Homo sapiens: one gene and its partners. The protein of the gene in region 1 purifies or fractionates together with the protein of each later gene. This does not show direct contact. Each region holds a gene or a part of one and is shown on either strand. Other genes may lie near its edges. The genes, in order: OSBPL10, DPP3 and NIPSNAP2.

What was found.
Region 2: the proteins of OSBPL10 (region 1) and DPP3 purify together in Homo sapiens (co-immunoprecipitation; one large-scale study listed by IntAct). This does not show direct contact.
Region 3: the proteins of OSBPL10 (region 1) and NIPSNAP2 purify together in Homo sapiens (affinity purification with mass spectrometry; one large-scale study listed by BioGRID and IntAct). This does not show direct contact.

What each region holds. Positions count from the first base shown.
Region 1 is NC_000003.12:31,680,705-31,684,358, reverse strand, and holds part of OSBPL10 (oxysterol-binding protein-related protein 10), read left to right. Parts: intron 1-244; coding exon 245-725; intron 726-3,654. UniProt on the Homo sapiens protein: Probable lipid transporter involved in lipid countertransport between the endoplasmic reticulum and the plasma membrane.
Region 2 is NC_000011.10:66,507,296-66,510,311, forward strand, and holds the end of DPP3 (dipeptidyl peptidase 3), read left to right. Parts: intron 1-1,783; coding exon 1,784-1,956; 3' UTR 1,957-2,362; downstream 2,363-3,016. UniProt on the Homo sapiens protein: Cleaves and degrades bioactive peptides, including angiotensin, Leu-enkephalin and Met-enkephalin. Also cleaves Arg-Arg-beta-naphthylamide (in vitro).
Region 3 is NC_000007.14:55,970,997-55,974,650, reverse strand, and holds part of NIPSNAP2 (protein NipSnap homolog 2), read right to left. Parts: intron 1-3,654. UniProt on the Homo sapiens protein: Protein involved in mitophagy by facilitating recruitment of the autophagy machinery required for clearance of damaged mitochondria.

The DNA of each region.
Region 1 (3,654 bases):
CAAGGAAGAAAATCACTCAGAGCAGTCTTGTCCACAAAGCTGGGCTCTCGTTGATTCCACTGCCACTTCTCATTTCTTTGATATTGTTTCCCTTGGTTTGTCATGTGTGCACAAGTCAAAACAGACTGCTCCCTGGCTGGAGATGTTATGAATTTGCTTAACAGTGGTTGCAGCCTTTACCTTTCTTTTCAGCTTTTCCGTGTAATCCCAGGGATTGTCTGACTTTGTGTCCTTCCAAATGCAGGTGGTGCTTCCCACCTTTATCCTGGAGAAGCGATCTTTGCTGGAGATGTATGCAGATTTCATGGCGCACCCAGACCTACTGCTGGCCATCACCGCTGGGGCCACACCAGAGGAGAGAGTCATTTGCTTCGTTGAGTATTATCTCACAGCCTTTCACGAGGGCCGCAAGGGCGCTTTAGCCAAGAAGCCCTACAACCCCATCATAGGCGAGACATTTCACTGCTCCTGGGAAGTTCCCAAGGACAGGGTCAAGCCTAAGAGGACTGCTTCCCGCTCTCCTGCCAGCTGTCACGAACACCCAATGGCCGATGACCCTTCCAAAAGCTACAAACTAAGGTTTGTGGCTGAGCAAGTGTCCCATCACCCACCCATCTCCTGCTTCTACTGTGAGTGCGAGGAGAAGAGACTGTGCGTCAACACTCATGTATGGACCAAAAGCAAGTTCATGGGCATGTCCGTGGGGGTCTCTATGATAGGGGAAGGTAAGCCATGTCGTATGTTGGAGTTTGGCTCTTACACAGTGACGTTTCTATACCTGGTAGATGATTGATAATTTTGTGTGTGGAGTTTTTTGTTGTTGTTGTTTTTAACTGGTTTTGGAATTAGAGTGTGGGTGGTAAAAGGGTCAGGTTTTGTTGTTTGGGAACAAGGTCTGGTAATTTCCCAGCGGGGCCAAGGTAACGGACTATCTGCCTGACAGCCGCCCACCTGGACCTTCCCACCTGGACCTTCCCATGCTGTGCACGCGCGTGCGTGCACACCTTACAGGTACTGTTTTCTTTCAGCTTTGCATGAATATAAGAGTTGGCCTCCAAATCTGTGAAAACACATTTTTATTCATTCTCACCGGTGTTCTGGCTCACAGACAATGAGGATAATCATGCTGCCTATTCAAAATCTGCTCGTAAAAATTCCCAAAACAAATCTTTTGACTCTATGCTGGAAATTCTGAAGCAAGAACATAGTATAATCACGCCACTGGTGGATCACACATTCTTATTTTAGCAAATAGCTGTGAATGAAGTTTATTCATTGTTTGAAGAAACCTATAATAATCCTTGTTAAATTCAAGCATCTGTGTTACTGGTTCTTCAACTTTTTTTTGAGTCACAAATCTCTTCAAGGCTCTAAGGCTGTGATTCTCTTCCTAGAAAAAAGGAATCTAACTCCAAATTTGTCTTTGAGTTTCAGGGAGTACATGGCTCCTTAGAAGCCCTTCCAAAACCCCATGAGATAAGAGCACCTTTCATTCACTTAGCACATTTTTATTGAGCACCTACTAGATGCTTGGCATTGCCTTAGGAGCTGTGGTTACTTGAGCAAACAAAACAGACCAAAAAAGATCTGTTCTGATGATGCTTCTGTTCTCCTTCTTTCTCACGGGGAAATGAAATAAATAAGTAAATAAAATGGATTGTGTGGTAAGTTGAAGAATGGTAAGTGTTGTAGAGAAACAAAGCAGGTGGGGGTCCGGGGAAGACCAGGGAGAGGGCAGTTGAGCTTTCAGATGAGCTGGCCAGTGGGAAGGCCTCACTAAGGTGATATTTGAGCAAAGACCCAAAGCGGGCAAAGAGGGGTAAGGCAAGCCTTATAGGTCACTGGGAAAGAGTTTGTGTGCAGAAAGAATGAGGCAGAGGCCTACAGGTAAAATGTCCCTGGCACGGGGATGGAGACAGGAAGCCCATGTGGCTGGAGCAGGGTGAACAGGGGCAGGTGGAGGTCAGGGAGGTGATGGTGGCCAGATCACATAGGACCTCATGGGCTATTGCTAGGGACACTGGCTCTTACAGTGAGGGAGCCCTGAAGCCACTGGTGCTTTTGAGCTGGAGAGTACCAGGCTCAATCTCATAGTTCAGCAAGACTGCTCCAGCCGTTTGTTGAAAACAGACCCTGGGCGGGGGTAATGGTGGAAACAAGGAGACTAGGGAGGAGGTTGTGAGAATAACTAAGCAGGTGATGATGGTGGCTTGGACCAGGTGGAAAATAGTGGAGGAAGTAAATGTAGTGGAGTAGTAAGGATCTGGATAGGTTCTAAAGTTAGAGCCAAGAGGATCTGCCTCTGGATGGGATGTGGAGTGTGAGAGAAAGTGTTGCCAAGGTTTTGACCTGAGCACCTAGAAGGATGGACTAGCTGTTAAAACTGAGATGGGGAGACTTGAGGGCTGGGTATTGGGCTACTTTGAAGGAAGAGTATGGGAGCTCAGGGCGGTTGTTAGGGTTTAGTCATTGAAGGGAGTGCTAAAGTAGGCAATTGTGTATGCAAGCTGGAGTTTCATAGGGAGGGTCCTGGCTGAGATAAAATATTTAAGGCCTTGAGACTAATGAGACTGCTGAGTGAGCACTGATTTCTGAAGCATTAAGCAGCATTAAGAGGTCTGCAAGATGAACAGCCAGCCGAGGAGACTGATGAGGGGTGGCCAGAGAAGTAGACTGAATGGAATGGGAGAAGGTGCTCCTTGCGAGGCAAGTGAAGAAGGGCTTCAAAGTGCGAGAGTGATCAACTGCATCACATGATGCTGGTTACTCCAGTAAGATGAGAACTGAGAAGGGATCATGGATTTTGGATCATGGAGGTCATTCGTCACCTTGACAGCAGTTGTCAGTGGAGTAGCACTAGTGAAAATCTGACTAGAATAAAGTCAAGAGAGAAGGAAGGAGAGGAATTAGGGACTGTAAATGTGGACAGTTCCTCCTTATTTAGGGTTTGCATGCAATGGTACTGTTTTGGAAAATAGCCACTCTTGGGTTCCACTTCTCTGTTAGGTTTACACCCCAAAGCGCTGCTCCCCCTCTTGCATAGGTAAGATGGCAACTCCAGAGTGCCCACAGGTGTACTCAGCATTCGTGTTGGGCCTTCACTGGGGTCTTCCTTGCATGCAGGTCTAGTAATCAGCAGCTCATGCTGCACTCGTCACACCTTCCTCTCAAGGATCAATCAGGATCAAGAAGTTCACCAATGAGACATTCATTAATTTGTGTAGGAAGCTAGGGACACACCTGTCACCAGGATGATCTTGGGTCACCCAGTTTAGGCCTTTTCCACAATTCAGATGGAGGTGGGTTGTATCTGTGGGGGAAAGATGTAAAAATACATCTATCTTTAGATAAACCTCATCAATAATGAGTATTATCCTCCTCTTAGGTTATCTTCTGTAAGAGTGCAGTATTACAACTATTTTCCAATTAGAAAAATCCCAATTCATGACTGGGTTGTCTGGCTTTTCCTGCTGTTGACAAGGGGAGATGGATGCCTGAAGTGGTCTCTCTTCTTAAAGAGGAGTTGTTACCAGTGATGACTGGACCATGAAATCTTGTAGCTGAAAGGGCATTTGTCCACCATATGCTCCAGGGTTTCCAGCTGTGCTGTAGAGAATCCCAGGCTCCTTAGAGGGGCACAGGAAGTGAGTGGCA
Region 2 (3,016 bases), on another chromosome or scaffold:
TCTCTACTAAAAATACAAAAAATTAGCCAGGCATGGTTGCAGGCGCCTGTAGTCCCAGCTACTCAGGAGACTGAGGCAGGAGAATGACCTGAACCCGGGAGGCGGAGCTTGCAGTGAGCCAAGATTGCGTCACTGCACTCCAGCCTGGGTGACAGAGCGAGACTCCATCTAAAAAAAAAAATAATAATAATAATCATCATCATAATCATACAAGGGAAGTGTTAATGAGTGGCCAAAACATATAAACAGAACTCTGAACACTTAGAGGAGGGAAGATCGCATCCATCTTCAAGAGTATCCGGGAACGTTCTGGGGAGGAAGGGGTGGTTCCCACTAGATCTGAAGAACAGGTTGGATTTTCAAAGGTTGTGATGGTGGTGCACTGTAAAAAGTTTTTTTTTTTTTTTTTGAGGTGGAGTCTCACTCTGTCCCGCAGGCAGTGGTGAGATCTCGGCTCACTGCAACCTCCACCTCCGGAGTCAAATGATTCTCCGGCCTCAGCCTCCCAAAAAGCTGGGATTAGAGGCACCCACCACCATGCCCAGCTAATTTTGTATTTTTAGTAGAGATGGGGTTTCACCATGTTGGCCAGGCTAATCTCGAACTCCTGACCTCAAGTGATCCACCCGCCTCAGCCTCCCAAAGTGCTGGCATTACAGGTGTGAGCCACCACACCCAGCCAGGTCGCTGTAAAAGCTTTCTATGGCTTAACTCCTAACAACCCAGAGAGAAATGGTTATTATCCTCATTTTTCATCTGGAAAATGAGGCACAGAGGGGCTGTGTATTTGCCTGCGGTCACAAAGCTGTTGGGTGGCAGAGCCAGAACTTGAACTCCAGAGCTTGTGCTCTTTGCTGCTGTGCAGCTTGTGATGTCATGGAACACGACAAGGTGCACAGAGAGGGTAGAGCAGTTGAAGTGTGTTTGAGGGCAGTGCTTCCCGGGGGTATTCAGGGGACCCTCAGAACAGCCCATTTAATAAATCAGTAAACAGGTTCGGAGATAATGATGCCATGGTGGCTAGCATTTGTTGAGCACCCCCTCGATGTGTGACTATGTCATCACTGCAGCTCCTTTACAGATGAGGAGACTGAAGCTTGGGAGGTTGCAACACTTGCCCCAGGTCCCACAGTAGACAGATGAAGTCGTTGCTGAATTGTGAGCTTCAGGACACCAAGGACTGTATCTGTTTCACCTAGTGTGGCACCTGGTGTCTTTTATTATTTATTTATTTATTTATTTATTTTGAGGTGGAATCTCACTGTCACCCAGGCTGGAGTGCAGTGGCACGATCTCTGCTCACCGCAACCTCTGCCACCCGGGTTCAAGCAATTCTCCAGCCTCAGCCTCCCGAGTAGCTGGGACTACAGGCTCATGCCACCACGCCCAGCTAATTTTTTTGTATGTTTAGTATAAACAGTGTTTCATCATGTTGGCCAAGCTGGTCTCAAACTCCTGACCTCAGGTGATCCTCCCACCTCAGCCTACCAAGGTGCTAGGATTACAGGCATGAGCCACCATGCCCAGCCTAAATCTTTATTTGATTGACTGAATGAACGAAAGCAGCAATGCATTTAATACTCCCCCTGTAGTATTTCCTTCCTCACAGGGTTACTGTAAAGAGTAAATTAAGTAATTAACCTAAAACGTAGAGCACAGGTTTTTTTGGCAGAGCTCAGTAAGAAACAGCTGCTGCTGTAATTGTGATTATTAAGATTTTTATGATGATTCAGTTTCCCTATTCAGACCTTTCCCTGCTGTTTTCTCTCCATCTCCTCCCCAGGCTCAGACGTGCAGCTTCTGGAATACGAGGCGTCAGCTGCTGGCCTCATCCGATCCTTCTCTGAGCGTTTCCCAGAGGATGGACCCGAGTTGGAGGAGATCCTCACACAGCTGGCCACAGCCGATGCCCGATTCTGGAAGGGCCCCAGTGAGGCCCCATCTGGCCAAGCTTGAGGAAGATGTGTGGCCTTGCCCCCAATTCCATCAGACCAAGGCTGCAAGTGGCCCTCCATTCGTGTGTGTATTTAGGGGCTGGGGAGGGGGAGGGGCAGGAGCTTGGACCTTGGTACTACCTCAGCTGAGGGTGGTGACACAACCCCTTCCATTTGTCAGCACTTTCCAGCCTGCCAATTGCTTCCCCTCTGTGATCTCATTTCATCTGCACTGCCATACGTGGAGTGAGCAAGACAGGGCTTACCATCCTGTCTACCAGATGAGGAAATGGCAGTTCTGAGAAGTCACTGGTCTAGATCCCGCAGGTGGCACGTGACAGCTAGGGTTCAAAACGTTCTCACCAAATCCAATGCTCCTCACATATTAATTTTATAACCAGACAAATAAATATTAGAGACAACCACCATCTTTGCGGCGTGTGTGGCTCCTCCTTGCCTTTGCCTGTCTTCTCATTTACTCCCAGCAGAGTGATGGGCTCAAGGCCTGGGGAGGGGGCAAGGAGGGCCATTTTTAGCCTCCCTTCCACAACAGGATGTTGACATTATCTCTAGATGAGGATACGCAGTCACAGAGCTGAACATAGCACAATTTTTGCAGCTCTCCTTTGTGGCATTCCTTGCATTTTTAAATGTTCTGGGGCCGGGCACGGTGGCTCATGCCTGTAATCCCAGCACTTTGGGAGGCCGAGGCGAGGGGATCACGAGGTCAGGAGTTCGAGACCGGCTTGGCCAATATGGTGAAACCTCGTCTCTACTAAAAAATAAAGTAGCTGGGCATGGTGGCATGCGCCTGTAATCCCAGCTACTCGGGAGGCTGAGGCAGGAGAATCCCTGGAACCCGGGAGGCGGAGGTTGCGGTGAGCCGAAATCGCGCTACTGCGCTCCAGCGCAAGCGACAGAGCGAGACTACGTCTCAAAAAAAAAAAAAAAAAAAAAAAGTTCTGGGAACCTACAAACTCAACTTCAGTCAGAATCCTCTGCATTTGTCCCATAACCCTCGTGTTTTGTTTCTCTGGGCCTGGACCTCTACAGTAACGCAGCAAGGCAGGACATGGTCCTTT
Region 3 (3,654 bases), on another chromosome or scaffold:
GGTCTCGATCTCCTGACCTCATGATCCGCCTGCCTCGGCCTCCCAAAGTGCTGGGATTACAGGCGTGAGCCACTGCGCCCAGCCTTCTACAATAGTATTTCTAATCTGCTTGGTAGACTTGCTTAAGCACCCAGATACCACCAGGTAAACATTAAGAGGAAAAGAAAGAGCAACTCCAGGTATTAAAAAGGGGGACCAGGAATTTAAACAAGGGACAAGAAAAACTCTCATGAGAGCAAATTCCCCAGTACTTCATGAAATGAACACATGGATTTCATACTACAATAATAGAAATTCCTATTCTTATGCAGCAACGGTATTTTAGAAGTAGGGCTCTAAATTTCACATGATACTGGCAGCCTTTTTCTTTCTTTCTTTCTTTCTTTTTTTTTGCTTAAAAAATCAGTTTGCTGCTTTATTTATTTATTTTTGAGGCAGGGTCTCATTGCACTTGCTGGAGTGCAGTAGTGCAATCTCGGCTCACTGCAACCTCTGCCTCCCAGGTTCCAGCAATTCTCCCACCTCAGCCTCCTGACTATCTGGGACTACAGGTGCATGCCACCACATCCGGCTAATCTTTGTATTTTTAGTAGGGACAGGGTTTCATCATGTTGGCCAGGTTGGTCTCGAATTCCTGGCCTTAAGTGATCCGCCAGCCTCAGCCTCCCAGAGTGCTGAGATTGCAAGGGTGAGCTGCCGCACTCAGCCTAGTTTGCTGCTTTCTTGAACAAACATTACAGAGCAATCTTCTCCCCAATATGATGTTCTTTTAATTTAAAAACCAATTCATAGGATATTGTCTCAAATAGGTAGAAACCAGATATAAAGATTTTTGAATGATGTGAACTTACAAATACAAATATATTGGCCGGGAGTGGTGGCTCACGCTTCTAAATCCCAGCTCTCTGGGAGGCCGAGGCAGGTGGATCACCTGAGGTCAGGAGTTCAAGACCAGCCTGGCCAACATGGTGAAATCTTGTCTCTACTAACACTACAAAAAAAAAAAAAAATAGCTGGGTGTGGTGGCACACGCCTGTGATCCCAGCTACTCAGGAGGCTGAGGTAGGAGAATCGCTTGAACCCAGGAGGTGGAGATTGCAGTGAGCCAAGTCGTGCCACTGCACTCCAGCCTGGGCTACACAGCAAGACTCAATCTCAAAAAAAGTAATAATAATAAAATAAAATAAAATAAATTAAAAATAAAATGTGCTCTATAAATAATTATAAAGAAATATAAAAGCACGTTTTCACATCCTTCAAAGATTAAAAAGAAGCAAACTCACTTTAAACAAGCAAAATAACAATACCAGTAAATGCAATTTTTCTTGAAAGATAAAAACATATAGTATTAAGTGGCATTTGCAGATGTAAGTTGAAGATGCTTCCAATTTGTGTTTACTATATATAAAAATTCCTAAAAATTAAGAAAGCATTAATGGTGGTTTCCCTGAGAAAATGGTTTAAAGGGATAGAGGGGAAAGACACACAGCTTTCTCCATATAATGTCTATATTGTGCTTTTCTCTTCTGTATTTTTTTTTTCTTTGAGACAGGGTCTCACTTTGTCACTCAGGCTGGAGTGCAGTGGCGTGATCTTGGCTCACTGTAGCCTCGACCTCCCGGGTTCAAGCTATCCTCCTGTCTCAACCCCTCCCAAGTAGCTGGGACTACAGGTGCCCAGCACCACATCCAACTAATTTTTGTATTTTTTTGTAGAGACAGGGTTTCACCATGCTGCCCAGGTTGGTCTTGAATTTCTGAGCTCAAGTGACCTGCCTGCCTCAGCTTCCCAAAGTCCTGGGATTATAGGCGTGAACCACCACACCCAGCCATATTCCAATAAAAATGAAAGCACATTTTGTCAATTAGTTTGAAGTGTTTTACGTACACTACATTTAGGGATATCTGTTTAATAATATCATGGGCTGGGCACAGTGGCTCATGCTTGTAATCCCAGCACTTTGGGAGGCCAAGGAGGCGGGTGGATCACCTGAGGTCGGGAAACCAGACTGACCAACATGCAGAAACCCCGTCTCTACTAAAAATATAAAATTAGCCAGGCATGGTGGCGCATGCCTGTAATCCCAGCTACTCAGGAGGCTGAGGCAGGAGAATCGCTTGAACCCGGGAGGTGCAGGGTGTAGTGGGCCGAGATCACGCCACTACACTCCAGCCTGGGCAACAAGAGTGAAACTCTGTCTCAAAAAAAAAAAAAAAGAAAAAGAAAAAAGAAACTTACGCATTACTTTAAGGCAACCATATAAAATTAGTGATACACAAAGTAGAAAGTTTTAAGATTTGTTTATGGGACTATGTAATTTCTGTATGTTCTTTTTTTTTTTTGAGACAGAGTCTTGCTCTGTTGCCCAGGCTGGAGGGCAATAGTGGCACAATCTCAGCTCACTGCAACCTCCGCCTCCTGGGTTCAAGTGATTCTCCTGCCTCAGCCTCCTAAGCAGTTGAGACTAGCGGCACCCACCACCACACCCATCTAATTTTTGTATTTTTAGTAGAGGTGGGTTTTCACCATGTTGGCCAGGCTGGTCTTGAACCCCTGACCTCAGGTGATCCACCTGCCTCGGCCTCCCAAAGTGCTGGAATTATAGGTGTGAGCCACTGTGCCCAGCCAATTTCTGTGTTTATTTTAGATTTTAAGTTCATTAAACAGAAATTGTGTCTACAATTTTTTTTGTTAAATAAATTGTAAAAGCTTAGGAATAACAATTATGAACAATTAAGAAAGGGATATAATAAAAAGTGTCTAAAAATACTGACTAGGGAGTTTCACTTAAAATAAGAAATACTAAAGCAATGACTACTAATAGTTTTATGTATATCCTTCCAGAAATACAGAGGCAAACATATATTATGTATATTTATAGACAGATAATATTTTCACTGATAAAGGATGCCTTTGAAATAAAAATCACCCCAACTGAGCATTTATTTCATATCTCAGAAACACCAAAGTCAGCCTGGGCAGCATAGGAAGACCCTGTCTCTACAAAAAAAAATAAAAAGAGTAGCTGGGCATGGTGGCTCGTGCTTATGGTCCTAGCTACCCAGGAACCTGAGGCAGGAGGATCGCTTGAGCCCACAAGTTCAATGCTGTAGTGAGCTATGATCATGCACTGTACTCCAGCCCGGGCAACAGAGCAAGACCACCTCTAAAACAAACAAACAAATAATAATACCAAAGGGATTCCCCTTTGGGTGGGTACAATGAGGTAAGGGATGTGACAATGCTAGTAATCGAAAAATGCAGAGCAGGGGGTGAGACTAAATCAACACAGCACACACAAAAGAACCTGAGTGGCATTTGCTTGTGAACTTGGGCAGCAATCGTCTTGACAAATGAAAAACAAGCCGGCCAGTACTACCCCCAACCGTCAAACTGAAATCTTTGAGTGTCAGGTGACCAAAGCTGCCTAACATGCCCAACCTATCTAGTCATTCGAGTCGCAGCTATGCCAACGGCTGCCCAAATGATAAGATCTGGCTTGGGCCTGGGTTCTTAACTGACAGTGACAATCGCCAAGATGGTAGGGGGCACTTTCCAGAGGATAAGGAAGGGTGCACTATACAAAACACTAGACTTGAAATCAAGTCAGCATTCTATGCCGGGCTCTATGGATACAAAGATAAACCAGATGCC